Regions from separate parts of the Homo sapiens genome. Here all the other regions are linked to region 1. The links come from fine-mapping of genetic effects on gene expression. A gene starts in region 1. Each other region holds a variant in brackets. All regions are shown on one strand. Distances are from middle to middle.

Region 1 (6,584 bases):
TAAAATATATATATTTATATATTTAAAATATATATTTAAAATAAATATATATATTTAAAATATATATTTAAAATAAATATATATATTTTAAATATATTTATATATTTTAAATATATAAATATAAACAGAAGTAATATAATATATAAATCTATATTTATATATGCATATACAATATATGCCTATATATATGTGCATGTTTATTTTATATTTAAACCAATTAACTTTTTATTGAAGTACTATATTCAGAAAAGTGAATGTGAGTGTAATCTCCAAGAATTTTCATAAACTGAACACACCCATGCAACTGGCACCTACAGCCTAGGTCCTGAATCAAAAAATAGAACATTACCATCATCCTAAATACCTCATGATTCCCTTCTAATCAATGCCTCTCCCCTACTAGAGAGAAGATTTCTATAAGCATAAGTTAGTTTTATTTATTTTTGTACTTTATACAAATGGACTCATGCAATATGTACTCTTCTGTATCTGGCTTTTTTCATCCAACATTATATTTGTACACTGTTTAATTTCATTCCCATTTAGTATTATATTGCATAAATGTGCCAAAATGTATTTATCTATTCTACTATTTATGGATATCTGGGTAATTTCCAGTTTGAGGCTATTATAAACACCACTGCTATGAACATTCTAGTAGATGCATACACATGTCCACATACCGAAGCAAGGAATTACTGGGTCATAGGATCTGCATATCTACAATTTTAATAGATACTGACATACAATTTACAAAATTGATTGAACCAATCAACACTCCCATGAGCAGTGTACAAGAGCTCCTGTTGCTCCAAATCCTCACTCACACTTGGTATATTCTGTCTTTTTAATTTTATTCATTCTACTGTTTGGATAGTAGTGTTGCAATGTGAATAAAATTTGTGATTCCCTGATAATTAATGATGTTGAGAACCTTTTCACCTCTTTTTCAAGGTATCTAAGTCCTCTTCTCAATTTTTCTATTGCATTATGAGTCCTTATTGTTTTAAATTTTAAACCATGTGATATGGTTTTAAAAAGTAAATTTAAAAGTAATGTAATTAACAATACAAATAAATTCCATGAAGTTCTATGCTTCATGCTCTCTCCTTCTTAGAGATGCATATTAGCATTTCAAAAGTTCTGAAAAGTTCTACATTTTTCACCACCACAAAACAGTTTAGAGAAATGTTGTCTCCCTTCTGATGTAATTTTCATGGAATTAACAATTGTCTCCTTTTTTTACTTGTATTTTTTTTTACAATTCATTCTCCAATTTTATCCCATAGTTCATTAGATCTATCAAACATCTATCAATATAATTTCTCAAATACTCAAAATTAGATAATCTATCATTTCAATTACTGTAACTACTGTTTTCTCTTGAAGTCTGCCATCTCCCTGTTCAGTGAAAATGGGTTGCTCTCCAATTCTGCCATATTTCTCTCATCCTGGAGTTTCCCTTCTTAATTTCCTGGTCCGGTTTTCTGGATCTCATGTCTTTCTTTTTCTTGGGCTACTCCCATGTTTTGCTGAACACATTCTCTAGGAGCTTTCTTTAAAAAAAAAAAATGACATGGAAAGAAAGTATTTCATTCTTGTATATGTGAAAATGTTTTTATTCTGCCCTTACATTTGACGGAAAGTTTGACTATAGAATTCTAAGTTGGAAGTTACTGTCCTTCAGAATATTGGAAAAATTTCACTTCATTATATTTCAGGATAACAATGACTTAGTAACATTGTTAAGAAATTCAATGCCATTCTAATTCCCATCTCTTTAATTTTTGTTTCCGCCCTCTGAAAACGTTTAGAATCTTCCCTTTAGTGTTAGTGTTCTCACCCTTTTAATGATGTATGTGCCTTAATGTAGGTCTTTTTACTTGGTGGGCCCTTTAAATATGAAGACTCCTGCCCTAGCAAAAATTTTTAAATTATTATTTTGATCATTTCTTCCCTGTTTATTTTTTGTTCTCTTTTTCTAGGACTCAGGTTTTTAATTAATTGACTGGATAAACATGTCAGGCCTCTGAGCCCAAGCTAAGCCATCATATACCCTGTGACCTGCACGTATACATCCAGATGGCCTGAAGCCACTGAAGAACCACAAAAGTGAAAATAGCCAGTTCCTACCTTAACTGATGACATTCCACGATTGCGATTTGTTCCTGCCCTTCCCTAACTGATCAATGGACCTTGTGACACTCCTTCTCCTGGACAATGAGTCTCAGGAGCTCCCCACTGAGCACCTTGTGACCCCCACCCCTGCCCGCAAGAGAAAAACCCCCTTTAACTGTAATTTTCCACTACCTACCCAAATCCTATAAAGACTGCCTCACCCCTATCTCCCTTTGCTGACTCCTTTTTCGAACTAAGTCGGCCTACACCCACATGATTAAAAGCTTTATTGCTCACCCAAAGCCTGTTTGGTGGTCTCTTCACACTGACGCGCGTTAACAGAATGAATGGATAGAAAAGTCTTCTGAGTACTTTTTAAGAAAAAAGCTTATTGGCCGGGCGCGGTGGCTCACGCCTGTAATCCCAGCACTTTGGGAGGACAAGGTGGGCGGATCACGAGGTCAGGAGTTCGAGACCAGCTTGGCCAACACGGTGAAACCCCGTCTCTACTAAAAATACAAAAATTAGCTGGGTGTGGTGGCGGGCGCCTGTAATCCAAGCTACTTGGGAGGCTGAGGCAGAAGAATTGCTTGAACCAGGGAGGCAGAGGTTGCAATGAGCAGAGCAGAGATCGCGCCACTACACTCCAGCCTGGGTGACAGAGCACGACTCCCTCTCGAAAAGAAAAAAAAAAGCTTATTAAGCAATAAAGCACAGAGTATCAGACCATATGTTTAGTGCTGAACATTTTATTATAAATGATCAAAAATGTTTAACATACTATTGTTTACAACCTCCCACTACTGTAAAATCTAACATTGCTACTTTCATTTCAGGTAATGCAAAAATACAAGAAGCATTAGCTGTCTGTAGGCAGAAATCTGTTCGAGTCATTCCTTATTACTGAATCCCTAGAATTAATTAAACATCTAGTATGGAGTTGGTATTGTATATAACATTTGCACTCACGTCTTACAAAATAGTCATCTAAGTAGAAAGGTATTCAAGGCAGAAGGATGGAAAAACGTTTGCAGTCTTTTTTGGTTGGCATGAAACACTGACTGCATTCCTCCCAGATTTATAAGAAAGAAATATTTGCAGTCTTACCTGGAGTTAGATGGATGGACTCTCTCAAGGTTATTTTTCAATCTCTGCACATACATACTTATGGAAGTAAGAAAGAAGAGGGAGAAAAGGCAGATCCCCCATAACAGCGGTTAAACACCTGAACTTGCTCCACTATGACAGGGTTTATCATCCACCTCTCAGTCCTCAAGTGGCTGGAAATATGGAAATTGGAGTCCAGGTAGACAGGTGAGTGTACAACCTCTTAAGTGTGGAGCCCTCGGAATTCACAACACTCCCCAAATCGCTTCCTGCGCAGGCGCGGAGTCGGAAGGGAGTCGGAAAGCAGACCCCGGTGCCCCCTAATAAAGCCCCCAGCCGGACGCTGCCGCTACCGGGGTTTGGCAACTTCCGGAAGACCTGTGGCCCAAAGGAGAATCCTGTTGGGGGAGGCGGGGGCCGGTGGTCGCTAACCAATCCGACACCCGCCAGCAGGCTGAAGAGAGGGGCTTTCCCAAAAGGAAAACTTTCCCAAACCTGGGGGATGGGAAGAGAAGACAAAAGGAGCTCCCTTTCCCACTTCCCAGCCGCCCGTCCCAGCCCTCGGCCTCCGCTGCGCGACCCGGGCGGAGGATCCCGGCCGCAGGCCGAGGCGAGAGCCAGGCGGGAGGGCCGCGAGCGGGCTGCCCCTCTCCCCGCCTTGCCGTCCGCCGCTGACGTAACCTGCGAAGTTTGGGGAGGGAGGAGCTCGGGCGGCCGGAGCTGGTCGCTGCGCGCGCCGGGGGGAGGGCCGGGGCTGCGAGAGAGGAAGCTCTTTCGCGGCGCTACGGCGTTGGCACCAGTCTCTAGAAAAGAAGTCAGCTCTGGTTCGGAGAAGCAGCGGCTGGCGTGGGCCATCCGGGGAATGGGCGCCCTCGTGACCTAGTGTTGCGGGGCAAAAAGGGTCTTGCCGGCCTCGCTCGTGCAGGGGCGTATCTGGGCGCCTGAGCGCGGCGTGGGAGCCTTGGGAGCCGCCGCAGCAGGGGGCACACCCGGAACCGGCCTGAGCGCCCGGGACCATGAACGGGGAGGCCATCTGCAGCGCCCTGCCCACCATTCCCTACCACAAACTCGCCGACCTGCGCTACCTGAGCCGCGGCGCCTCTGGCACTGTGTCGTCCGCCCGCCACGCAGACTGGCGCGTCCAGGTGGCCGTGAAGCACCTGCACATCCACACTCCGCTGCTCGACAGGTAGGCAGTCACTGGGGTTCCCTGGAAGAGCCCTCAACTCCTGCATCCCCTCAAGCCCCCTGACAAGCGGGCTCTAGAGCCCAAATGGCAGTGACCGCTTGGGGCCGGCCTCACCTCGTCACCTCTAGGGAGCCCTTCAAGCTTGGGAGATAGGGAGCACCCACCCTTCAAGCTCTGGCACCGTAGGGAGCACAGGCTTCTCTGGAGATGCAGCAGTTGCATTCCTCCACACATCTCTCCATTACCCTTTCTCTCCTTCCCTCTTACTCCTAGGCGTTCTGGCTCCGTACTCCAAAAATCAGCAATCACTGCCTAACTCTAAACGCTGGGTTTACTGAAATTGATGTGTGTTTATATATAGTGGGTGTGGGTTTTGTTTGCTTTGTTTTTTCCTTATTTTTGAAATTGGGCTGTAGGGCTGCACTGTCCAGTAGGTAGCTCTTAGCCACAGGTGGCTATTGAGCACTTGAAATGTGCCCGTCCGAATTGAAGTGTGACCTAAGTGTAAAATACCAGAGTTCGAATGCTTAGTATTTATTAAAAAAAGAACTTATAATATTTTATTATTTGTTTATTGATTATATGCTGAAATAACATTTTTGATATCTTGGGTTAAATATAAGATTAAAATTCATTTTATGTGTTTCTTTTTACTTTATGTGGCCACGAGAAAATTTTAAATTGTATGTGGTGGTGTTCACATTATATGTTTATTGGACCGCACTGCTTTAGAATCAAGGATGTTTTGCTTCTTATTGTTTTTATTTTGGTTTTGGTTTATTATGTGTTGTCAGGAACGTTTTATATCAAACTCAATACTAGCAGTTCAGTTTCTCCCAGTCTCAGTTTCTCTCACAGGGAAGATTAAGTAGAGGAAATGTGTGCTATTTTTGCCACAATAAATTGAACCAAAAGACTGTTAAATGGCCAGAAATTGTAAATGGCTTTCACTTATTGGTTTGTACAGGTTTTAAGGGAAGGTTAGCATTAGTTTCTGTTTTCAGAAGAACATTACAACCGCGTGCCATAGACCTGTGACTGTGTATTAGTCAATGGGTCACTAGTCTTGTGTATTTTACTTCCTACAGGGATTTAACTAGGCCCAGCATTCAGTTCTTAGTGAGTTAACATCCATGATTACAACATTCTCTTCTCCTCCTCCTATATCTAATGTGAAAATACGTCATCCCCGATGCCTGATTGGCCAGAAGCTGTGAGTATCCAGCATCAGATAAATTCCTCAGCTTCCGCCCTGCCAAAGTTACTGGATTTTCACCTGCCTGTGGCTTTTCTTCATTGTCTCTCACTGTCAGGCTTCGATGGCCTAAATGGCACAGGAGATTTGGGACACTTCTAGAGCTTGTTTCCACTTCTTGTCTATCATAATCCAGATTCAGTGATATACAAGGTGTGGTGTCTGTTTACTCCAGGCCTTATATTCTGTGGAGCAAGTGCTGGACAAGTGTGTATATGTGTCTGTAGTCAACTTTTAAGGGTGGTGGTTGGTTAGAGAGGGTGGATATATGTTAGAACCAGTTATGCAAACACTATATGGAAATGTAGCACTGATGGACCCATTAGGTATTGAAAAGCCAATTGATCCTCCCACTTTGGGTGCTGCTTCTCAGGATTTTGATTTATCTAAGCTTTGTGCAGTTTGGGGACCAAGAAGTGAAGAGGGAGTTTCCTTCCCATACTCATGAACAATTTTCATAGTCTAAAATTCTTCACTGAATTGGGTAGGAAATTAATTCTGTCTTCGAGGAAGCCATAAGACCAGCGAAACACTCTGGCATTTACTGCATCACATTCTTTTCTCCAATTTGTTACTTAAGATCTTATCATTGCAGTATTTATGTAGTCTGAGCATTAGATGAGGCTATGCAGTTGACTCACTGGTGTCTCTTTCCTCACTTATAAAATACGAATAATAAATACATGTGTTTCTCGGACTATGGAGAACAATGTTTGCATTGTTCTTTGGGATGACCTGAAAAAAAATAAGTTTATGCAATGTTACATGCTCTTATTTTAATGACTGGTGAATCAGTCTCCATAACCTGACTTCTATCCGATGAGTGGACCTTCCCCAACAATCTTCCCACCCCTTATGAGTAATGAGTCCAATTGGTTGTTCAAATACCCTGTAGATGACATAACTTTTCTGATT
Region 2 (5,816 bases), 250 kb after region 1:
AAGCCCATATTTTCTGATACTTTTCAGAGACATTTCTCATTTGAAATCTACAACAGCTCTGTGATGTCTTCAGAGATTTCATTTTTTAACACACATCATTAGGATTGTAGCAATAAGGTCATACAGACCTTATCCAAGCTCTTCTGACACCATTAGACAATACAGTTTGAGAAGGAGAAAATGAACTCATTTAAAAATTAATTGTAATCTGACAATTTTGAAATTCCTTTGCTGAAGAAAAATATGGAAGTTTTGAGGTTCAGGGTTGGGAGGCAAGAGAGGTACCTGTTAGTGTGGTTTGTCCCCTTCCTAGCACATGTAGCCTCAAGTTTGAATTCCTGGGAGAAGAAAAGTCTTTACATCTGTGATGTGGGAGGTTGTTCCAGGGAACATCATGTTTTTGTGGGCAAATACAAGTTGTTATAATTAAAACCCCTAATTTGAATATTTTTGTTACCAAGAACCAAGGCAAATGTTTAATTTGTTATAAAACCTGTTTGTGAAGTGCTGTGTTAAATTGTGCTGCTGGCTAATAGGCCTCATTTCAATTTAATAAATATTTATTGAGGACTGGCTTTATGTCTGGCCCTGTGCTATGCCCTGGGACTCAAAATTTAAAAAATACGAGCCCTGCTCTCAACTGTTCTCAAGTTGCTCTCAGTTCTATTGAGGAAAACATTCAGTCATTCAGTTGTTTATGAGGAAACACTAATTAATTAAGTACCTATTAAGTATTGGGCATTCTTTGGCAATTTGTGGTTGAAAGACATTCCTGCCTTCAATGTACTATAGTCTCATATATGTATTTTAAGCCACAAATAATAACCAATGAGTAGGCCTTGAAATCAATTTAGTGGAGCAAAACAGCACTTTGGGAGGCTGAGGCGGGTGGATCATTAGATCAAGAGATCAAGACTATCCTGGCCAACATGGTGAAACCCTGTCTCTAGTAAAAATACAAAAATTACTGGGTGTGGTTTCACACGCCTGTAGTCCCAGCTACTTGGGAGGCTGAGGCAGGAGAATCGCTTTAACCTGGGAGGCAGAGGTTGCAGTGAGCTGAGGTCGCGCCACTGTAGTCCAACCTGGCGATAGAGTGAGTGAGACTCCATCTCAAAAACAAAAAAATGGAATAGAATAGGATATATCTAAATTCATCTCATGTAGTAAGGTTGTTCATTTTGTGAAACTTTAAAAAAAAAATTTACCATTCTTCCTTTTTTGATTCATTCTTTGATTACTATCATGCACACTGCCATGTTTCTTTTCCTTTTGTTTTTATCAAGAGTAATAACTATCCAACCTGATCAACATGGTGAAACCCTGTCTCTACTGAAAATATAAAAATTAGCCGGGCGTGGTGGCGCGTGCCTGTAATCCCAGCTACTCAGGAGGCTGAGGCAGGAGCTACTCAGGAGGCTGAGGCAGGAGAATCACTTGAACCTAGGAGGCAGAGGTTGCAGTGAGCCAAGATCACGCCATTGCACTCCAGCCTGGGCAACAAAGTGAGATTCTATCTCAAAAAGAAAAAAAAAAAAAAGAATAGTAACTATCAAGAGTAAAATCACTATTTTTAGAAAAATGATTCCTGGCCAATATTCAGCAATACAGTTAACAAAGTAAGATATGACCTCAAACTGGCCACCTAGAATTAACTTGGGTTAGCATTTGGTGTATATCATTCCAGGCATCTGTTCTGGTAAAAGGATGGATAGGCATAATTTTACTTGGATGTCACATTTTCCCTTAGTCAACATTGTTTCATTGTTTTCTCACGATGAATATTGTCTTGGAGCAGTATAAAACCAACTAGATGTGTTTTCTTTATTTTTTTTAAATCTGGAAGCCTAAGTATTTCTTTATTCAGTGTAAAATTCTGGAATATAAGCTCTATGCAGGCAAAGATTTTCAACTGTTTTGTCCACTGTTTATACCTAGAACAGTGCTTAGCATAGAGTAAACATGTAACAAATATCTGTTACATGAATGAACGTGTGTACTGTGTTGCTATGAACATGTGTATGTTGCTATATAAATCACATTTCTTGCTATGGTTCACAGTCAGAAAAATCTGAAAAATGATAGTCTAGTGAGTCACCAGCAGACATCAATAGACTGTGAAGATGCAGATGTGTATTATAATGCATATATGACCCAAACTGTACATACCTAGAGGAGGCAAGGAAAGCTTCATGGAGGAGGTGGCCCCAGGAGCCTGCTGTTAAATCAGGAGTTGGAATTTGTGTGGTCCCAATGGCAATATAGACCTAAGGAATAGCATGTATCAAGAAGTGAAAGAGTGGCTTATTTATAAAAATTCAAGTGGTTTGTTTGGTATTGTGGAGTTGGTGAAGTATGGGAACAGAGAGAAGCGTGTGGAGACGAGATCAGTCAGGTTGCTGGGGGACAGGGTATGGTGGGCTTTTCTTATTTATGTAGAAAATTGAGCATTTACTATTTGCTAGGCACCTTACTAGGGATATGAAGGTGAGAAGAAGAGCTGATTCCTGCTGTCAAGAAGCATAGAGTCCAATGGCATTATGGTATGATGTGCCGCATGTTAGGTTGGGTGTTCTTGCTTTTGGATGGGATCCCAAATAAATAGCATCCGTTTTTTCCAGTCTGAAAAATGAGTAAAGATGGAAGCCAAAGTATCACTTTTATTGTGGTTTGTGAGAGGAAGCTGGGCCTATCAGCTGGATCTCCCGAAGTAGGCGGACTTACATAACTCTGGAGGAGGGCAGAACATTGTCCTCTGAAGGCAGCTGGCTCCCAAAAGGAAGAAGACCAAGGAGAACTGTTCATACCCAACGATCCTGTCAAAATTTACCAGTCATATCAACTGTCTCTGCACAGACAGATTGTACCTCAGTCTGTGTTGCTATAAAGGAATACCTGAGGCTGGGTAATTTATAAAGAAAAGGGTTTGTTTGACTCATGATTCTGATGCCTGGACAAGTTCAAGACTGGGCATCTGCATCTGGTGACGGCCTAAGGCTGCTTGCACTTGTGGCAGAAGGTGAAGGGGAGCTGGAGTTTGCAGAGATGGAAGTGAGGGGGTGTTGGGAGGTGCCGGCAAGAGAGGAAGTGAGAGGGTGTTGGGAGGTGCCGGCAAGAGAGGAAGTGAGAGGGTGTTGGGAGGTGCCAGGTTCTTTCACA[A/G]CCTGCTTTAGTGGGAACTAATAGAGTGCAAACTCACTTGCCACTGCCAGGATGAAGATGGTACTACGACATTCATGATGGATCTGCCACCATAACCCAGGCACCTCCCATTAGACCCCACCTCCAACATTGGGGATCACATTTCAACATGAGTTTTCAAGGGACAAACATCCAAACATCCTTAGCAGGTTGACTAAGGGGACAGAAAGAAGCCTGGAGTTGTACTACCTGAACTTCTCACAGTAGGGAGATGTCAGGACTGGGGAAGAAGCATCTCCTGCTCATGGGGGAGGTATGTCCAGTTTTATGAGAGTGTTGTTGTTTGGTATATATCAAAGCTGAGACCTGAAAGATGAGTAGGAGTTAGCCAAAGGGAGAGATGTAAGAATGTTTTAAACAGGAGAGTAGTCTATGTGAAGGCCCAGCATAAAGGTTATCAACAGAGAGTGGGGAGGCAGGAGGTGAGAGACAGCTTAGTGAGCAGCCTGTTGGCTGCGTTAAAGAGTTAGAACTTTGTCCTGCAGGGTGGGAGTGGAGACAAATGGCTAAACCCTGAGTAATCCTCTCATCTGTTGAGAGGTGATGGTGGCCTCAACGAGGGCATGCATTGGGTTTGGAGACACTCAAAGTTGAGTGATATTTAGGAGGTAAAATCAGAGGCCTTGGTGATTGGTTGGTGGTGAGGATGAGAGATGGGGCTATGCTCAGTGGTGACATGTTGCCATCAAAATTGTGAGCAGAAATACGATATCATCAGGTAAGACTGGAAGTAGGGAGACCAAACATCCAAACACCAGTGATGAGGGTCTGAACTGAGGATAGCATTAGAGCTACTGGGGACTAAAACGAACTGGGCTTGGTTTGAATGTATGGGGTAAGATGAAGCCCAGATTTCTGTCTTTGGCCCCTGAGCTAAGGACAGTGCCACTCTCTTGAGTGAGGACATTAAGTGGGGGCTGGAGGGAGAAGAGGAGTAAGTGACATCAGTCCTGAAATGTCAGTAGGGTCTGGGACTCCTCAAGTGGTATATAGATAAATAAGCTACAGAAGTAGAGGAGAGAATGTTAATTCTCCCTGGGAGTGTTAGGGAAAGCACCAGAGCTCTCACAGCTGGGTTTCAATGATGAATGTTGGGTGATGATAGGGAGCAATTTGTGTAAAGACAGGAAAGTAGGAAAGAGTTCATGTTTGGGGAATCCTGAGTACTTTGTTTTCCTGAGTGTAAATTTCAGGGGAGATGAGGCAGAAGAGAGGGACAGGAGCTAGGTCGTGAAGACATATGCTATGGGGAGCGAAGGAATCTGGATATTCTGCAGCTACCAGGAGCCCTTAGAAGATCTTAAGAAGAGAAGTAACATGATCCCATTAGCAGTCCTCGGAAGATCAGTTAAAAGATGACACAGAATAGGCCCCCAATGTTTGTGAATGTTGTGAGATAGGGGTTTGAAATCAGGTGGTGGATATAGAGGGACACTGGGGAGGTAAAAGGCATGGGGCTTATAGACGGATGGGATGTATCAGGTGAAGAGGAGAGGGAGTCACCAAGGTGGGGCAGGGCAGGGCAGGTGGTGGGGGTGGGGTTAATGGATGAATCTTGGCCTTGTAGCTTAAGGATGCATTTGAAGAAATTTCAAACAAACTTCCTGCCCAAACTACAAAGCAAACTTTATATTATTACAAAAAATAATCTAGATCTCAGATATCTCCCAAAGGTCATGATAATGACATCAAAAGAGGGGGGAATTTTAAAGTTATCCAGAGTTTCTTACAGCCCATGGTAGAAAGCATGCAATAGATGTTTAGCAACTTTTAGTTTTTGCAGAAAATTCTAGGTAGAAAATGATCAGCATTCTCAGCTGTCCTGCGCTCTTCTCTTCCTAAGTTGATGAATCATTCTGAGATTGAAGTGCCAGGGTAATGATAAGTAAGTCTAGAATACAAGGTCAACTGCACTTTTATCCCTTCCAGTCTGGGAAACCCTCACACTGCATTGTAACATAAAAGCAGTGATAGAACTGTAGGCTTTCATAATTGCTGGAATGATGAAATGATGTTGCCATTTACCTTTAGCCCTAATTTATTCTTCATGCTTCAAAACCATATTTCCTACTGCAGCTTAGATATCTCTACCTGACTATTCCAGAAGCATCCCAAGTGCAGCATTTCTGATGCAGAACTCATTATCCTCAATGCTCCAACTTGGTCTTCTCATGTCAACCCAGTCATTTCAGTCAGAGCATCACTCTGCATGCAGCCACTTAAAACTAGAACTCAGTTACCTTCCACAGCTCTCACCTTACTTGCCAGGTCTGGCTGGTTGGGTTCTGGGTTCAGGCTAATTTACATGTTAAATGTGTGTGGAATATGTTGTCTTCTCTTAATTTCTACTGCCCTCGGTATCTCTCATGTACACTTAATGACTTCTGTCTGATGAGTCTCCATTTCCTTTTTTCTGGCTCACATTTAAATCTTAATTTTTCTAGAACACAAAGGCAGTGCAGATGTAACAGGGATATTGAGGTAAAGATGAGAGAGGTAGAAAAATCTCTCTCAGTTCTTTTCAGTAAACAGGAGACCTGTTTATATGCTGTTAATGAAACAGGCAAAAATGTGATGAAATAGATCAAGAACAAAAGTCCAAGCTCATGTTGTTGGGC
Region 3 (6,584 bases), 71 kb after region 1:
CAGCCATCTTGCTCAGCCTCCACAAATGCTTTCTGTGAATTTTTTTAAAGCAGTCAGACATAGAGAGAATAAAACAGTGATTACCAGGGTTGGAGTGTGGGATAGGAATTGGGAAGATATTAGGCCAAAGGATACAAATTAGCAAATATATACGATGAACAAATGGAAAGATCTAATATACAATGTGAGGACTATAGTCAATAATAGAATGTTATATTCAGGATTTTTTCTAAATGAGTAGATTATAGCTACTCTTGCCATAGGGGGATAAAGGAGTAACTGTGTGAGACGATGGATATGTTCCTTTGTTCCACTATAGTGACCTTTTTACTGTATATGTGCATCTTATAACATCATGTTCCATATCTTAAATACACATAATGATTTTTTTTAAAGAGTCAGCCTTTTCCAGGATGTGGGAAAGGATTTGCTTGCAGCAGCTAAGTAACATGACATACTGTACGTAGTTGTTGGCCAGGATAATTACACAGCAAATCACTTATGTGGAAAAATACTCAGTAGACGAATACAAAGAGACAGGAGCCACTTGATGAGCATAGCAAAACAAGCTGTGAAAAATAAATACACATACACACGCTCTGCTCTAATGTTCTTAAAATCCCCCCCGTCACACACTGCAGTTCCCTGTTTGGCCATCTCAGCTGCCCTAAAGCTGGCTAGAAAAATGATGGGCAATTAGAACGCTGCTCAGCAAACCAATTACAAAAAGAAATAAGATTAGAGTATGGACATGTTTGGAAGAAGATTTAGGGGAAATCTTTCTAGTTTGAAATGGTGAATATTAAAGATGGAGCAGTTCCCACAATCATTTGAGTCTATTTTTTATTGAAATTATAATAACAAATTAGCTTTGCTAATCTTATTTCATTTACTACAACAAACCCTATGAAATTTTTGCTGCTCATGGTATAATTGTCCTTATCTTTGAGATGGGTAAACCAGATCATTCAGAGTGATGTAAGAGGGATTTATCCAAGACTACATGCCAGTGAGTGGGAGAGCTCAAGGCTCAATCTCAGACCTTTTTTTTTTTTTTTTGGTGCAGTGATGTGATCATAGATGACTACAGCCTAGAACTCCTGGCCTCAACCACCCACAGTGCTGGGATTCCAAGTGTGAGCTACCATGGCCAGCCAATCTCACGTCTTCTGACTCCAGCTACTATGGCATTTCCGCGACACTATGCCTTTTCTTGCCAGTGATGAGTGAGGTCAGCTGCTATCCAGTAAACGAAATGGCTCCAGTTTTTCATTTCCTCTTGATTGTCTTGTCTAGTGGTTGCATTAAATCTGGAAGTACTTGGTCCTGTCTGCCTCCAGCCTACTGTTCCCCTGACTCCTGATAAGTGACTAAACAAAATGACAAGTACAAGGGGATTTCCAGTGCTACTGGCTTGTTTCTGTGTGGTCTTTGATTTTTCAAGAGTAATGAGCAAAAAAAAAACAGAAAAGAAAAAAGAAAAAAATGTCTCTTATATATGCCATCTAAATTTCTCTCCCTTTCTTTCCATGTGTACTTACATAGAAATACCAGTTGCTGTGTTTGCACAGCACCCAGCTGATAATAGCGAAAGCCTCTCATTCTTCACACCCATTTCCCAGGCTCTTTAATGTGGGCTCAAGGGAAGGGCACCTCCCCTGCAGTTTAAGCGTGATCCAAGTGGAATGATTCACACCAGGCCCTGCTCTTCTTTTCAATGTAAGTAAATCTGATGTGTATCTTACAGAAACTGTTATTGGCAAGAATTCCTCCCCTGTCCCACTCATGTTCTATATTCATATTTCTGAGGATATTCACAGATCTCTACCCATATTTAAGTTAAGGGAAGTGCATCTTAAAGCTTCTTAAATCTATGAGAGACCTAAGATCCTGGGCCAGAGACTGACCAGAAACAAGCAGGACATAGGGTCTGAAGAAGCACATTCCTCCCTCAGGTCCTCCGCACACCTTCCTTCCCCTTTGATGGGACAATCAGGAGGCAGTGTCACATCTGTCCTTACTGAGTTCTTGCTAGTTTTTTTTAAATCTATTTATTTATTTATTTATTGACTGGATTATGAGACCAGCTAATTTTTGTATTTTTGGTAGAGAGGGGATTTTTACCATGTTGACAAGTCTGGTCTTGAACTCCTGGGCTCAAGCTATTCTCCTGCCTCAGCCTCCTGAGTAGGCGGGGCTACAGGTGCATGCCACCATGCCCGGCTAATTTAGAGATGGGGTTTCACTATGTTGGCCAGGCTGGTCTTCAACTCCTGACCTCAAGTGATCCACCAGCCTCGATCTCCCAAAGTGCTGGGATTACAAGCGTGAGCCACCGCACCCAGCTCCATTAGTTTTTGAGTTTGTAATCTTAATTACAGTATAGTCATATAAACATTAGTTTTTCTTCATGAAATAACTGTGATTGAAAGTCGTTTCTTCCCCTGACTATACACTATGCTTTCAGGTTATACTTGTGTTTTGCTGTTGTTGTTCTTGCTGCTGATGCTTTATGGATTTCAAAATGACGGAAAAGGAAAACAGCATAGGGAAGCTGATCCTCTTCCACACCCAGAGGGCCATTCTGCTGCCTCTCTTCCAGACACAAAAGGAGACAGAGCAGACATTCATGTGGCTGAATTCCTAATTTTCCATTATAGCTGCCAGCATGTGTGAAAACAAGCATAAAAACCAAAGACTTACCTTAATCTTCATTTCAGTCTATTTGGCATTTCTTGCACTTCCAAGTCTGAGGGATGAGTTATCTACCACAGCTAGGAAAATTTATCTCTATGCATTTACATTTGAACATTTTTACCAACTAAATAAAAGATAGATTGCTCTTAACTACTGCAAAAAGATGATTACTTTTTTCTAATATATGACTAAAATTTCTGCCCTATCTAGTTTTTTACATAGAAAGGTTAATTTCTATGAATCATTGCAAAGATAAAAATAAATTTTGATTAAAAATATTTATTCAATGGAAATACTATAAAGGGAGGATTTTAATATTGTTTCTACTGATGTAACTTGTCTTAATGGAAAACATCAGTGGATCATGGCTTTGGGAATCTCAGACTCATAATAATTACCACCTGTTTTGTGTTTGCAACGTGCCAGACACGGTAGTAGAGACCAGGATTTCAGAAATAAGTTAGATGTAATTCTGTCCCCAAATAATTTATGCCTAATAATAAAAACAGGTTTATGTCCACTTTGGATGAAATGAGTTGCTCTCATTCTGTTGCTCAGGCTGAAGTGCAGTGGCACAATCTCATCTCACTGCAATCTCATTGTTCCAGGTTCAAGTGATTCTTGTGCCTCACCCTCCCGAATAGTTGGGATTATAGATGTGCACCAACACACCCACTAATTTTTGTATTTTTAGTAGAGACAAGGTCTTGCCATGTTGGCCAGGCTGGTCTCAAACTCCTGGCCTCACGTGATCCACCCACCTCAGCCTCCCAAAGTGCTGGGATTACAGTCATGAGCCACTGTGCCCAGCTGGAAGCCAAGATTTTAATGCAAAATAAGAATTATCTAGGGTGAAGCTACAATATTGTGAAGGGAGTACAGAGCTGGCTTGAGATTAGAAAGGTTTTCTAGAGAGGTCACCCTCTCTAGAGTCAGTTTCAAAGTTGGGTAATACCAAGTGATTAACAAATACATCAACAGTTAAGGGCAGTTTAGGTGAACAGACTATGTGCAGATCATCTAACATAGTCACTGAAGATTAAGTAAGAATAAGAAATAGGCCTTGCTAAGCACTATAGGGAGGGAAGACAACCTAAC[C/T]GATAATTATGTTAAGTATTATAACAGAAGCGAGCACAATGTCCAAAAACTGCATAGAGGCGGGTATTTCACTCAGCTCTGCAGATCAGAAAGGCTTCCCAGAACAGTAATGCTTTAGCTGAATCTTAATGAATAAGGATTTTTCCTGTGGTCAGAGAAGTGGGAAGGAAAGGACAGTTAAGGAGAGATTATACAGAAGATATTGGAAATGGAATGGATAATTTGTGCTCAGTCATTCGGCACTCACTATGTGCTAGACACTGGATGTTATCACAAGATGGGGTGGAGATTGATCTTGGACAAGACATACAGCAGCCAGATCATCTTTTTAAAAAGTAAATCACATCATTTTACTCTCCTATTCAACAACCTCCAAAGTGTGCTCCCCTTGCAAGCATAATAACTATTGTGGGTTCTTAGCATGACCCACACTGTCCAATATGATCAGTTCCCAAAAAATTTCGACAAGCTCACCTCCTGCCACATGCACTTACTCCCTCTGGCATTTTTTCTGTTTTGTAGGACAAACCTTTGGCTTCCCCAGGGGATTTTCTCCCTCCACCTGGAATGCTCATTCCTCATCATTTAGGTCTTAGCTCAGATGCTTTCAGAAGCCTTTCATTATCACCATATGAGAGTAACCCTCTTCCCCCAACGCCCTGCCTTAGACAATCTCAGTCTCATCTCCCTGTTTTTCGTTGTTGTTTTTTTTTCCTTTTTTTTTTTTTTTTTTGAGATGGAGTTTCACTCTTGCCACCCAGGCTGGAGTGCAATGGCACCATCTTGGCTCACTTCAACCTCCACCTCCTAGGTTCAAGTGATTCTCGTACCTCAGCCTCCCAAGTAACTAGGATTGCAGGCACTCACCACCACGCCCAGCTAATTTTTTGTAATTTTAGTAGAGATGGGTTTCACCATGTTAACCAGGATAGTCTCAATCTCTTGACCTCGTGATCCACCCACCTCGGCCTCCCAAAGTGCTGGGATTACAGGTGTGAGCCACTCTTAGGCCCCATCTCCATTTTACTCTCATAGTATTTATTACAATCTTAAAATGCCCATTTCTTTGTGTTATCTGCCTCCTCCAACAATACTCCACAGAAACAGAGATCTTATTTGTCTCTTAGACACTGCTCTAGCTTCAGCATCTAGAAGACTTGGCAATTATCTATTGGCTAAATGAATAAATAATGACCTTGAGAGTGAGTAAGCTGAGGGATGTTCATGATCACGAGAAGTGAGATTAGTTTAAAGAGCTTTCCTGGGTAAGAGTAAGCTCAGAGTAGGAAACTGAAAGGCGGATTGATGAAGATATAAATAATAATCCATGAGGAACTACATTATAAAAGTTTCTTTAAAAAGATTCTTAACATAGTAAGCATGACTGTATACATTGTGAGTATACAAACCTGGAAATTTATACCAGTGAATTTAAAATTGCATCTCTATAACACCATAAATCAATTTATTGTTTTGGCAAAGTATGGTAGCTATGCTGTCTCTTCTGTTGGAAGACATCTTTCAACTCATTATCTATTATTCTTTTAGCTACTGATTCTATGCCAGGCTCTCAATTATAGGATTCATGTGCTTAAGGAAAATATAGCCTGAAAGACCAAATCCAATCAAAGTAGGTAAAATATATACTGTCTGAAATTGCCTCACCATATGGCTTGAGAATTTCTCAACTAGCATTTATTTATGCATTATTTGTATGGTTTTTTATTTTTAAAATTTCCTTTTTTTCTTTGTTCATACCGAGTCCTGCACGTCTTATTAATTTTTTAAATAAAAGAAATACCTATGAGAAAGAGGCCAGGCATGGTGGCTCACGCCTGTAATCCCAGCACTTTGGGAGGCTGAGGCAGGTGAGTCACCTGGTTTCAGAAGTTTGAGACCAGACTGGCCAACATGGGGAAACACCGTCTCTGCTAAAAAAAACACAAATATTAGCTGGGCATTGTGCTGCCACCTGTAATCCCAGCTACTCGAGAGGCTGAGGCAGGAGAATCACTTGAACCTGGGAGGCAGAGGTTGCAGTGAGCTGAGATCGCGTCACTGCATTCCAGCCTGGGTGACAGAGTGGGACTCCATCTCAAAAAGAAAAAAAAAATACCTATGAAAAACAAAGACAACTTTTTAAAAACCTACTCTTTATCAAACATACATACCTAGGAATTTATCGTAAGGATAAAATTTAACAGAATTGAAAAGATAAGTGTGGCAATGTTAACTTGTTAACTATACTCTTATTTGTAAGAATAAAAACAAACAATAACAAAAGAAACTATGCATCAACTTGGAGGAGAATTCCGTGGCTTATAAAAATGATATCCCAAAAAACATAGAAAAATATTTATGATTACATATCAAATGAAAATAGCAGAGCCTGACATGGTAGCCTGCGCCTAGGATCCCAGCTGTTTGTGAGGCTGAGGCAGAAGAAGCGATTGAGGCCAGGTGCAGTGGCTTACGCCTGTAATCCCAGCACTTTGGGAGGCCAAGGCGGGCAGATCACCTGAGGTCAGGAGTTCGAGACCAGCCTGGCCAACATGGTGAAACCCTGTCTCTACTAAAGATGTGAAATTATCTAGGCATAGTGGAGGATGCCTGTAATCCCAGCTACTTGGGAGGCTGAAGCAGGAGAATGGTGTGAACCTGGGAGGCGGAGCTTGCAGTGAGCCAAGATAGATCGCGCCACTGCACTCCAGCCTGGGTGAGAGAGAGAGACTCCGTCTCAAAAAAAAAAAAAAATTGATTGAGCCCAGGAGTTTTTGAGTCTGCGGTGA
Region 4 (6,584 bases), 40 kb after region 1:
AATGAATGGGTTGAAAGGAACAAGTGTGCATCTGATGCTTCAAAATCCTCTACTGGAAAGATGTTAATAGACGTTTATCTCATGAGTAAACACTTCCACAGATAAAGGGGGAGCTTATTACCTTGTCAGGCAATTTATTTCATCTCCAGACAGTACTATCCATACTTTCATACACTGATTTAAAAATTGATTTCCGGCCACGCGCGGTGGCTCAAGCCTGTAATCCCAGCACTTTGGGAGGCTGAGGCAGGCAGATCATGAGGTCAGGAGATCGAGACCATCCTGGCCAACATGGTGAAACCCCGTCTCTACTAAAAATACAAAAATTAGCCGGGTATGGTGGCGTGCGTCTGTAGTCCCAGCTACTCAGGAGGCTGAGGCAGGAGAATCGCTTGAACCCGGGAGGCAGAGGTTGCAGTGAGCCGAGATCACACCACTGCAATCCAGCCTGGGCGACAGAGCAAGACTCTGTCTAAAAAAAAAAATAAAACAATAAAAAATAAAAATAAAAATTGATTTCCTTGTAGTATATATCAACTCATCCTGATTACAAACCTTGGAATATTTTATGGGGTAAATCTAATCCCTCTTCTATGACAGCATCTTATATATTTCCAAGGAGCTCTTTTATTTCTGGTGATTTTTTTTTTCTCTGCCTCAGAATAATTCCTACTTACTTCAGTGGTTATTTAAGTGGCATGGTCTATATTCCTCTCAAAGTATGGTAGCCACAACTAAACATGGTGCTCCTACTCAGGTCTTGCCATCACAGTTGGGATATCTGCTCCCTTATCCTTAAATAAAATGCTAAAGCACCGTTTTATAGTAGTCACATGTCATTGTCAAATTAATATTTAACTACCAGCTAACAAATTCTTCATCTGTACACCTGTGTTGTTTTGCCTTATTTCTCCACTTTTCAAATAGGTAAATTGGATTGTTAGGCCCATATATAACAATTTGCCTTTATCTCTCTTTTTTTTTTTTTTTTTTTTTTTGAGACGGAGTCTCGCTGTCGCCAGGCTGGAGTGCAGTGGCACGATCTCGGCTCACTGCAACTTCGGCCTCCTGGGTTCAAGCGATTCTCCTGCCTCAGCCTCCCGAGTAGCTGGGATTACAGACACGTGCCAACACACCCAGCTAATTTTTGTATTTTTAGTAGAGATGGGGTTTCACCATGTTGGCCAGGATGGTCTCAATCTCTTGACCTCATGATCCTCCCTCCTCGGCCTCCCAAAGTGCAAAGTGCTGGGATTAGAGGCATAAGCCACTGCACTGGCCTATCTCTATTTTTTTTTTAATTCATCCCTAGTTCCAGTTATTCAATACATTTTTTATCCCTAAATCTGGAATCTTCCAGCTTGTCATCCACAAATTTGACAAACCTACTTTTTATAGTTTCATCCAAGTTACTAATTAAAATGTCGATTGTGCTGAGCCATTCAAGCATGAAGTTTGCAAATTACCACAAGCCTTCTTTCCTTCAATTTGACAAAGCTCATCACTATTTAACTACAATCATTCATCTAATCACTAATGAATATAATTGGAATATTTTAAAGAGTTTCCTTTTTTAACATAAAAAATATGGAATCTACAAATTTAGCCTACATGGTCTCTATATCTGGGCAGTTTTTTAAAGAATTGGCTTGTGTTTTCATCGAAAATGTGTGTTTCAATATAAATCCACTTTTTTTGCTACAAGTACATTCAGTTATTAAAATGGGGCATGCCTCTTCTCTTAAAATATTAAATGGATATTGCTCAGGCTCTGCTTATAAAATCTGGTGCAAGACACTCTCTGTCCACCAAAATCCCATGATTTAAGGATGCCAACCAAATAAAGAAACTCCAAATTCCACATCTGAAAAAAAAATACTAAGAAAATTAAAGAATAGACAGAAGATAATTTTAAAATACTTACATAATACCCTTAGAGAGACTTGTTATCTTCAAAACTAGGAGAAATTGTTAAAAAATAGAAGCAACTAATGATCTAGAAACATTTAAACTATGATTCTCATAATAATAACCCAGAACCCATCCATTCTTGAAAACTGTCCTTTTTCTCACTAGGACTCCTAACTTGGGAGTTTGTTAGGGTAGATAACCAGTCCAAGCCTCTAGCTTCCATATCTTTGGTTGATTCCTTTTTGGATGTATTTAGCAACCCTGAGCAAACAGGGAAGCTACCAACAAAATAACTGCAAGTACTTTTCATTGCTAGTTTGAAGTCTCCTGCCCTCACTAAACACATGTTGCTGAGCTTTTGCCTTCTCACTGTGACTGATGCACTCCTCATCATACTAAGAGATGCTTAGGACTGGCAGGATGCCCATCACCTTTGTTTCCACCAGTGCCCCTTAGTGGAATGGTACAAAGTCTAAAGGGGCAAGAAAAAAATTTTTTGAAAAATTAACTCTTTAGTGTTTTGGGCACAGCCTGATCACAAACACATGAGATATATTTTGCATAGGCCTCCCGACAAAGTTAAAAGGACTCAAAATTCCGAATTAATTTCGACTCCAGAAGAGAGTTAATAGTTTTAGAATTTTAAGCTCATTAATCTAACTGAATTCATTCTAAGGAATATGGAAGCTAGTACTGGGAGCCTGGTCCCAAGACAATGTTTTAATTTTAATTGTTTTTAAATTAGAAGAAAAAAATGAATATATAACAATGAACAGTTTAGATTACATATATCTTTATAATAATGCAATTGTAAAAAATAATTTTAATATCTTTTATAGAGGACAGAGCCACAAAAGCATAAGTGCCTATGTCAGAGGTGTTTGAACCAGAGCAACTCCATTTTGAATAGGGGCTGAGTAAAATAAGGCTGAAAACTACTGGGCTACATTCCCAGGAGGTTAGGCATTCTTAGTCAGGATGAGACAGAAGGTTGGCACAAGATACAGGTCATAAAAACCCTACTGATAAAACAGGATGTGGTAAAGAAGTCAGCCAAAACCAAGATGGTGACAAAAGTGACCTCTGTTCATCTTCACTGCTCATTATATGCTAATTATAATATAATTATAATGCATTAGATTGCTAAGAGATACTCCCACCAGGGCCATGACAGTTTACAAATGCCATGGCAACCTAGGGAAGTTAGCTTATATGGTCTAAAAGGGAGAGGAATCCTCAGTTCTGGGAATTGCCCACCCCTTTCCTGGAAAACTCATGAATAATCCACTTCTTATTTAGCATATAACCAAGAAATAACTATAAGTATACTCAGTTGAGCAGCCCATGCCACTGCTCTGTCTATACAGTAGCCATTTTTTTATTCCTTTACCTTCTTAATAAACTTGCTTTCACTTTATGGACTCACCCTGAATTTTTTTCTTGCACAAAGTTCAAGAACCTCTCTTGGGGTCTGGATAAGGACACCTTTCCAGTAACACCTAGGGCCCACGAATGTCCTATTGCAGCTCTGATTGTGAAATGACTTACCTGACGGTAGTCTGAAAAGTTTGCTTGAGACTGTAGCCACAGCAAAAGTTGACCTTACAAACTGGGTCATTCTTGTCACACCCAACTAAAACAGCGCAATCAGACCACGTACCATTGCTCCAAGAATGTAATTCTCTGCAAGCTTGGCTGCTGAGACTGCCTGCTATAACCTGAAACCAGTTTTATCTAAAGGCTACTGAAACAATCTACTGCACCTCTAAGACTAGTTTTACCCACCACCATCACTCACCAAAAAGCTTGCTAGCTCCCCAAAACCTTACTTGAGCCAATGAACTTTCTAGAGTAGTGGTATGTAATGTTTCTCCTTTTTATAAAAGCTCTAAC[C/T]TTCTCTTTGTTCTTTAGATATACCAAAGACAACCCGGTCTGTGTGTATGCCCCTAGTTGCAATTCTTTCTTGCCAAATAAAATATTTTAATTTCAGAGATTCATCTTTATATTTTATTTGACTTTGACAGCACTAATCAGACACAGTACTCCAGAGGTGCTAGGATAGGGGGCAAAGGGCAAGGAAACTGAATAGTGGCAGATTGGGCTTGTCCATGTCAGGAAGGACCAGTGGCCCACAACACTAGCATGTAGAGGAAAAAGCAAGTAGAAACACAATGAATACTGCAGGTTAAAGGCGTGGCCCTCAGAGCTTGAGCATTCTCACCTTTCCACTTGCCAAGACCCTGAAAAAAGGCGGAGATTCAGACTTCCCACCAACCCTTTCAGGTTAGAGCCTGGGCCACATTCAATTTAACTTAGAAACATAAATAAATCTGTCTTGTTCCTCAGTGTTATAGGCAAAATCATGCCTGATATATTGACTGGTATGGTCTTGTTTATTACTATTATTGCTTTAGGTTGTGTATTGACTGGTTGCCCCCAAAATGATCTGCTGAAGTCCTAATCCCCAGAACCTGTGAGTGTGACCTATTTGGAAAGTGGGTTTTTACAAATGTCATTAAATTAAAGATCTCAAGATGAGACCATCCTGGATTAACTGGGTGTGCCGTAAATCCAGTGACAAGTGTCCTTATAAGAAGAGGGCTGGGCATGGTGGCTCACGCCTGTAATCCCAGCACTTTGGGAGGCCAATGCAGGCAGGTCACTTGAGGCCAGGAGTTTGAGACCAGCCTGGCCAACACGGAGAAATCCCATCTCTACTAAAAATACAAAAATTAGCCAGGCGTGGCAGCGGGCACCTGTAGTCTCAGCTACCCAGGAGGCTGAGGCAGAAGAATTTCTTGAACCCAAGAGGCAGAGGCTGCAGTGAGTTGAGATCACACCACTGCACTCCAGTCTGGGCAACAGAGTGAGACACTGTCTCAAAAAAAAGGAAAAGAAAAAAAGGAGAGAAGACACAGACAAAAGAAAAGGCCATGGAAGGCAGAGGCAGAGATAGGAATGGCACAGCCACATGCCAAAGAATGCCTGGAATCACCAAAAGCTGGAAAAGGAAAAGGCAAAGGACTTTTACCCCTCTAGCCTTCAGAGGGCGTGTGGCCCTGCCAACACCTTGATTTTGGACTACAGACCTCCTGAACTGTGAGAGAATAAATTTCTATTATTTTAGGCCACCAAGTTTACGGTAATATGTTAATGATAGTCCTAGGACACTAAGATACTTCATTTTTAAAAATATACTTAATTTTTTAGAATAGTTCATGATTTCTTGAAAGATTGAAAAGCTAGTGTAGAAAGTTCCCATATACTCTGCACCCAGTTCCCCCTACTATTGACATCTTCCATGAGTATAGTGTATTTGTTAAAATTAATGAACTACTATTGATAATATAAAATAAAAAATCTCAGAACCCTCTAAATTTATCATGCCAAGGGGGAAATTAAGCTCTGGAGACTGAGTCATGAAGCATGTTTGCAATTAGATTATAGATTAACTCTCTTGCTCATTGTTCTTGTTCTGTAAATGACTAGAAGAGACTAGAGACCAGACCTTTCTCCACTTGCAATTACTGATCTTTGTTATAGATTAACTGCCTCCTTTATTGTTCAATACCTAACTCAGACCAGATGGTGCAAAAGACCCCATAACTATTAGATTCTCAGTGTGAAATGTTAAATATACCTCTGAAAATAGGTAATTGGAAATCCAAGCTGTTGGAACTCTAAATTACTTTGAACCTTAAAGAAATGTGAGGTTATGGGGACTGAGTCATGTGACAGGCAGCTGTAACCTTTCTTGCTCTGATTATAGATTAGCCTTCCTCACCTACATTGTTTTCTAAAATGTTATATATTACTAAAGGGCACCAGGGAAGACCCCTTCCCTCTTCCCTGTTGATCTTTATTATAGATTAACTTCCTCTTATCTTTCTCACAAAAAGGCTTTATGGTTATCACATTGTCTTCAGATGGAATATTAAAAATACTCTTTTAAATTGGAAAGGACATGAAAACAAGCTGTATGGAAAACAAAATGAACTATAACTAATTAAATGTTTATAACTCAAAAACAAGCTTTGTATAGAAAATGTTATATATAATCCTACTCTATTTTCTGTCTATATAAGAACCTTTAACTTCAGAGCCCTGACCCCATTTCTCTGGAGTCTGTGTCTTTTAAATAGCCATTCCCAGCTTTTCACTTTAATAAACTCTTTATAACTTGATTCTGATCCGTTTGACTGTTTCAGCTTGACGTGCCTTTCCTGAAAGAAAAATACCACCTCAACAAATCAGATCATTGTAACTATACATTAAGCCTAACATAGGAAGGTGTTGATATTCTGCTAAACTTCCCTAAACTTTGTGAATATGAGTGAAAACTTCTATACTTTGGAACACTGACTTCCATTCTTTAGAATCTGTGCTTCCCAAGAAGCCCGGCTTCAAACTTTGCACTTGAATCAACTCTGTTTAAACTAGATTCTGAGTCAGGCATGGTGGCTCACGCCTGTAGTCCCAACACTTTGGGAGGCTGTGGTAGGCTAATCACTTGAGACCAGGAGTTTGAGACCAGCCTGGCCAACATGGTAAACCCCATCTCTACTAAAAATACAAAAAAAAAAAAAAAAGTTAATCAGGCAATCCCAGCTACTTGGGTGGCTGAGGCAAGAGAATTGTTTGAACTCAGGAGGCAGAGATTGTAGTGAGCTGAG
Region 5 (6,584 bases), 79 kb after region 1:
GATTTCTATCCTGATAATTGGGGGTGGGAGTAGATGTGTTTCTTAGTTGGAAGGCACAGTTAAAAGTAATTTTAGTGGGCACAGTGCATCCACCTATAGTCTCAGTCACTCAGCAGGCTGAGCTGGGAGGATCGCTTTAGCCCAGGAGTTTGAGCCCAGCCTGGGTAACACAATGAGACCCCATCTCAAAAAATGATAATAAATAAATAATAATTTTAGTTTCCCATTCACTTGATGCTTTTCATGATCAAGCGAAGGTTGGGCTAAAGATTCCAGTATTAGGAGGTTCCCAAAGACAGTTGAGAGTTGTATTTTCACGGGATCAATTTTCCTGGGGCTTAGGGCGATCTTAAAAGTCACAATCAGCTCTGAATTTGTTGCTACACAAGCAAAACTAAACTTATAAATCTGGACCCATTGCTATATATCACCTACATAACAAGATGGGGCCATGCAGTGGAGTAGAATAAGGTGACCATAACGGAAGAAGCTGTAAACATCTTACACTGGAAAAATAGTGGAATAAAGAGCAGTGTCAGAGAAAATAGGCCATGTGGTAGCTCCAACATTTATGTAATCATTTATTTTGCTTCCTTGTATCCCTAGCTAAGCCTCTTCTTCCTCTGTGTGTGTGTGTGTGTGTGTGTGTGTGTGTGTGTGTGTGTGTGTTTGGTTGTGTATCCTCTTCCTGATAAGATTCCCTCTTTACACCGGTACAATCAACTCCTTAATTGGAATTAGAATTTCTCTGTCTGGAATTTATACATATATCTTAGGATTGTATTTACCAGTAAAAAAAGCCCTTCAAGTTTACAAAGACTATATGGTAAGAAATCTAAGCTTAATTTTCCTTTCATTGCACTACTTGACTTACAACAGTAACCATGCAAATGGATTTATGCTTCAATGTGTAAAATGAAAGGACTTTCCTCCTTCACTTCGCACATGTACACATACACATCTGAAGGCATTTAGCAATGTGTCCAGCACAAAACAGACACTTAATTAATGTTACTTTCTGTTTCCTTTTGAAGAACAGTGTGTTAGCCACCTACACAACACATTAAGGAATTAATGGGCAAAGCAAAAGGCCAAGAGAGAATAGCTCAGTAGTTAGAAATATGAGCTTCGGTATCAGACCGGATTTTGAATTCTGGCCTTACCATTTAGCAGCTCTCTGTCCTTAGAAAGATCACTTAAACTCTGATTCTCAGTTTCCTCTGGTACAAAGTGAGGATAATACTACTTAGGCCATAGAATGTTTGTTAAAAGTAACAAGCTATTGCATGCATGCAACACACAAAGCACAGTTCCTAGAATATAATATGTACTCAATTATGAAAAGAATTTTAATTTCTTTTTAAAACGGCATACCCACTAATCATTAGAGTAAAACACAAATCAAAACCACAATGAGATGTCACCTCATACCCATTAGGATGGCCACTATCAACAAACCAGAAAATAACAAGTATTGGTGAGGATGAGGAGACATTTGAGTCTTTGTGTACCGCTGGTAGAAATGTAAAATGGTGTAGCTGCTCTTGAAAACAGCATGATTCCTCAAAAAACTAAAGACAGAATTACCATGTGAGGTAGCATCCCACTTCTGGGTATAAATACAAAAGAATATAAAGCAAGAGCGCAAAGAGGTATTTGTACACCTATATTCAATGCATCATTATTCACAAGAGCCAAGATGTGGAAGTAGCCTGAAATTCCGTTTATAAATGAATGGATAAAGGAAACGTGTCATATACATATTTAGCCTTTTAAAAAAGAAGAAAATTTTGTTATATGCTACAACATCGATGAACCTTGAAGACATTATGCTTAGTAAAATAAGCCAGTCACAGAGGAACAAATACTGTATAATTCCACTTATGTAGAGCTATGTAGAGTAGGGGAAACCACGGAAACAGAAAGTAGAATGGTGGTTTCCAGGAGCTAAGGGGAGGGTGAAATGGGAGTTGTTATTTGATGGGCAAAGGATTTCGGTTTTGCAAGATGAAAAAGTTCTAGAGATCTGTTACCCAATAATGTGGATACAGTTAACACTATTGTAATAGTGCACTTAAAAATGGTTAAGAGTATAAATTTATATTATGAGTTTTTCACCACAATTTTATCAAAAAAAATAGGGCATACTGAAAAAAAAAAAGTGCATCTTTAAGGATGTTCTCTCTAGCTCTTCTCCAACGCCAGAATACAGAATGAGGAGGAGAAAGGAGACATGAAAATAAAGAAAGTCAAAAACCATTTTTACCGTTCTTAAATTATGTTTATGGGATTCCTTCAGGTTAATGAGGAAAGAAAAATCTGTGTAACTGACAGCAAAAGCTAATTCGAAGCATCCTTTCTCCCTCAGCTTTGGGAATACTCAAAAGAGGGGACTAGAAATCACCCATTATAGATAAGAAAAGTCTGCGAATGTATTTATACAAATGCTTTGCCTTTGAATTGGAAGTAAGAATAGTTAAAAGAGAGGAAACAAAACTTTGAAAGGGAGGGAAGGAAGAAGGCACTGTAGAAAAATCTTACAGTTTGGAGTCAAGATGAGGAGTTTGAATCCTCTTTCTACTTGGTTATCCTCTCTGTGGATGACTTTGTCAGTAAAAATGGTGATGTTCATACTTTCTAACAGAGGTGTTGTGAGAACTAACTCAAGATATTATGTTTGAAATGTTCTTTTCATCTCATGAAACATAATCCACATTTTACTTGTGATTTTACAGACGGCAAACAGTAGCTAATTACCACCCCAAGGAAAAACAGTAAGTAATTTCTACCTTCCTGCTCACGGGGCTGTAATCATTTATATTTTGACACTTGTTGCTAGTCTTGTTAATGAATGTCAATATTAATTCAGTATGGGAAAGTGTGGGAAATTTCTATCTTCAAAGTGAAAATGTGACAACATACCCCCTGGGCATTAAAGGAAATAAAGCATTCTTACTAAAACAAGGAAGAAATTTAATGTTTCTTAAGGGCAAATAAGTATCTCAAATCATAGCTCAAGAATGTGACTCTATTCATGGTTCTCCCTTTTTCTACAGATAATCTAAAATATTTACAAAAGGTAATAACCAAATTCACTTCCAAAGACAAAGGAGGGAATTTCACCATGAAAGAGAGGAAATGAAAGAATTTTTGAACAATGAGGCTGATAGAACTATGGATTTTTTCCAAAAAGGAAATAATTAAATTTTTTTCCTTGGGGTTTTTAATTAAAGGTCCTCCACATCCTAAAGTATGATGGGGGTAATGTCCGTCGGAATACCTCTTGGAGTTAGTTCACAATACTGAGAATTAATGTTTCCTAAAATTGTGTTTCAGTAATGCTGCTTTCTATGTTTTCTTTTTTCTTGTATGTTGTAGCTTCAACAACAAAATACACTTAGTGGCTTTACTACTCTTGACTAACAGATTTGGGTGTTGAACAAGAAAAAACAGAAGAAAAATCTAAGTAGAACTCACTGGATATTAACAACCATGTGCCATTTTCTAAAATAGCTCAGACTTGTCTATAGCCTTGTTTCTTTTGTTTTGTTTTGTTCTCGCTCTGTCGCCCAGGCTGGGGTGCAATGGCACCATCTCAGCTCACAGCAGCCTTGGCCTCCTGGGTTCAGGCTCAGGTGATCCGCCCACCTCAGCCTCCTGAAGGGCTGGGATTACAAGCATGAGCCACCATGCCCAGCTATAGTCTTGTTTCTTGATCAGTTTTGTTTGTTGGTTTGTTTTATTGGCAAAGAGAACTCATCAGATAGGGTGT[G/GTGTGTC]TGTGTGTGTGTGTGTGTGTGTGTGTGTGTGTGTGTGTGTGTGATAACCCTTTCTCTGCTGGAGTTGGTTTACTTTACTACTGAAATTTTTAAAATATTTGATTAAATATTTTATATTAATATTTATTTTTGCTTTATTTTAACATGAAAATTCAACCAGTATAATTTGGGTGGGGGGGAGGTGCATACTTAATATTAAAAGCACTCGCTTATGATCTTAATGAGTTCATTAAAGGAAAGTTATTAAGTAATATTACCATAGTAAAAGTAAAGTAAGTAAATGAAAGTTCAGCTCTATCTTCCAGTGGTTATTGCTTTTATTAGCTCACAATGAACCAACATTAGCTTCTTTTGCTAGTGTCTCTGAATACTAACAGTAAAGCAGTTCTGCTGGTTTCCACTTCACTGATCTACTCTTGATTTACATCAACGGTGAACCTTTCACTTAGTTACCTCTTTAGACTTGCTTTCCACACATCCTGTTTATGTGCAGTCAGCAGGAAGAAAACAAGAATGTGGATATGAGCAGGAAGAGAAAGATGAAGAAATAAAATGCTTTCAGAAAAGTAGAAATTTCTATGAAAGTCCCCAGCATATTTTTTTTAAACACTGGAAACGGTCTTTGTGAATCATCCAATCTGACTGTTTGTTAGCTGTCATCCAGCAAATCCTTGAAGATGAGGAACTTGAACGTTTAAATAGAAGTCGATGACACATTCTTTGTCATGTTTTCCTATTTCTCTAACTAAAACAAGAGTTTGCCATGGAGATGTTCTTGAATTAGGCTTCACATCTGTGGCATTATGGTTTACAGAAATAAACCAGACTCCCTAGAATTGGAGTCTGGATTCTAGCTAGACATGACTGTCCAGTGATGTGACCTTGGGCAATTTTCCTTAATTCACAAGGCCTTACGTACCCTCTGGAGTTACCTAAAATCTCTACCTTTAGAGATTAAGGGATATTGAATTTCACAAGAATTCATAAACCCATAAACAAGAATTCCAGAGATGAAGGCATCAGATTGATTGCCCTATTGGATCAGGAAGAGGCAGAAAGCTCCACCATGAGGTGTGGGAATAAAGAGCAGATACAGTTGATTGAGGTTGAGCGTGTCAATGAAAGCAGAAATGTGGTGGGGTATCCTGGCATCTGTATACTGCTCTTCTTTACCCCAAGGACATTCACGGTTGGCTGAGATGCCTGGGAGTGACATGGCTTGAGAGCAGGTTTTTGAAGGATGAAAAGAGGATATTTGCCTAAAAGTGTCACCAGGAAGCAAAGAGAAAGCCATTGTCCTTGTACTTGGCAATAAAGTTCAAGAGTAAGACTATATCTGAGATTGCAAAGAAAGAATAGCAGGTTAAATATGGAGGCATGGACAACATTATAAAAAGTGTATCTTTGTTCAAGTAACACATACTCATTGTTGAAAAGTTAAAAGGTACAGATAATCACAAAATAAACTCACTACAGATAAGTGCAGAAAAAATAAGCACTGTGAACATTTTGCTGCACATCATTGCAGGCTTTTCATAGATAAACCTTCTGCAGGTGTAAAAAGTATCAGATTCAAATATCTGTGGGTTGTGCTTGCTAGACAACTCTTAAGCTGTGTATTGTTAAAATAAACCTTATATAATGTATTGTAGCTTATTGTGAAAGGGTCAAGAAATCAAGATAGCTGTTTCTCTTATTTCCATTAAAAATCTATTCATTTCATGTTAGGAGGACAGTTAACTTGTTACCAAGCAGAACTGTATTTAAAACAAATTCGAAAACTATTCATAACCTATATGTATTTAGTCCTGGTTAGACATAAAGCTTCACAGTGCTGTTTTATGCATCACATTAACCAGCTATAAAACACACAGGACTTTATCTATAGCAGACAGAGAATTTCAGGATTTATATACAGATACCCTACAAAGTCATGTGATTTTAAAATCAGTGTTTTATTATTTATTTATTTATTTATTTATTTTGAGATGGAGTTTCGCTCTTGTTGCTCAGGCTGGAGTGCAATGGTGCGATCTCGGCTCACCGTAACTTCCGCCTTCCAGGTTCAAGTGATTCTCCTGCCTCAGCCTCCTGAGTAGCTGGGATTACAGGCATGCGCCACCACACCCGGCTAATTTTGTATTTTTAGTAGAGACAGGGGTTCTCCATGTTGGTCAGGCTGGTCTTGAACTCCTGACCTCAGGTGATCCGCCTGCCTTGGCCTCCCAGTTCTGGGATTACAGGCATGAGCCACCGCACCCAGCCTTCAGTGTTTTATTATTAAGAACTATCAAGTTACTTGTAAAACTATTCTAATTAAAAGTGGGTCTAAATATTTTCCAAAAAATAGGTTTATGCTCTATATACTGTTTTTTAATTGAGGTGGAATTCACATAACATAAAATTAATTTACACTTTGAAGTGAACAATTCAGTGGCTATTAGCATATTCACAGTGTTGTGCAACCAGCACATCCATCTAGTTTCGGAAGCATTTCATCACCCCAGCTGGAAACCTGGTACCATTAAACAGTTGGTCTCCATTCCTCCCTCCCCCTAGTGTCTGGCAACCACTATTCTATGTTCTAGCTCTAAGGATTTACCTACTCTGGATATTTCATATAAATAGAATCATACAATGTCTGACCTTTTGTGTCTAGCTTCTCTCACTTAACATAATGTTTCTGAGATTCATACATGCTGTACTATCAATACTTTTGTAAAAAGTTTTAATACTTATTATGATTGAATAATATTCCACTGCATATATATATAATATATATATTATAGAAAGCATATGAAATTTTAATTAG

Which allele goes with the higher level. Positions count from the first base shown, and alleles are read on the strand shown. Sizes are in standard deviations (SD) of each study's normalised expression. Not every link is listed here.
In carriers of allele G in region 5, the expression in neutrophils of the gene that starts at base 3,997 in region 1 tends to be higher than with GTGTGTC alone (large effect, 0.83 SD a copy in CEDAR).

What was found. PIP is the estimated chance that this variant, and not a neighbour inherited with it, causes the effect.
Region 2: its variant is the best candidate, but not a certain one, in a credible set for the expression of RIPK2 in whole blood (INTERVAL, PIP 0.70).
Region 3: its variant is the best candidate, but not a certain one, in a credible set for the expression of RIPK2 in whole blood (TOPMed, PIP 0.52).
Region 4: its variant is the best candidate, but not a certain one, in a credible set for the expression of RIPK2 in whole blood (TOPMed, PIP 0.90).
Region 5: its variant is the best candidate, but not a certain one, in a credible set for the expression of RIPK2 in neutrophils (CEDAR, PIP 0.60).

The regions. Positions count from the first base shown.
Region 1 is chr8:89,753,820-89,760,403 of GRCh38, forward strand. It overlaps RIPK2 (receptor interacting serine/threonine kinase 2), which reads left to right and starts at 3,997. Exons shown (of 11, transcript NM_003821.6): 1 at 3,997-4,414. The coding sequence starts at 4,242. PARAIL (palmitic acid regulated anti-inflammatory lncRNA) reads right to left here and starts at 3,892. Exons shown (of 5, transcript NR_125822.1): 1 at 3,226-3,892. RefSeq lists a silencer at 3,743-3,862 and enhancers at 4,403-4,472, 5,751-5,840.
Region 2 is chr8:90,002,827-90,008,642 of GRCh38, forward strand. All of the region lies in intron 1 of DECR1 (2,4-dienoyl-CoA reductase 1), which reads left to right. Among named protein-coding and RNA genes, the nearest start is that of DECR1, 4.3 kb to the left of the region's middle. RefSeq lists enhancers at 2,790-3,099, 3,260-3,319. The variant A/G (reference allele first, on the strand shown) is at 3,160.
Region 3 is chr8:89,824,973-89,831,556 of GRCh38, forward strand. No RefSeq gene overlaps it. Among named protein-coding and RNA genes, the nearest start is that of RIPK2, 70 kb to the left of the region's middle. RefSeq lists an enhancer at 1,284-1,413. The variant C/T (reference allele first, on the strand shown) is at 3,796.
Region 4 is chr8:89,794,090-89,800,673 of GRCh38, forward strand. No RefSeq gene overlaps it. Among named protein-coding and RNA genes, the nearest start is that of RIPK2, 40 kb to the left of the region's middle. The variant C/T (reference allele first, on the strand shown) is at 3,805.
Region 5 is chr8:89,832,808-89,839,391 of GRCh38, forward strand. No RefSeq gene overlaps it. Among named protein-coding and RNA genes, the nearest start is that of OSGIN2, 66 kb to the right of the region's middle. RefSeq lists an enhancer at 4,341-4,440. The variant G/GTGTGTC (reference allele first, on the strand shown) is at 3,773.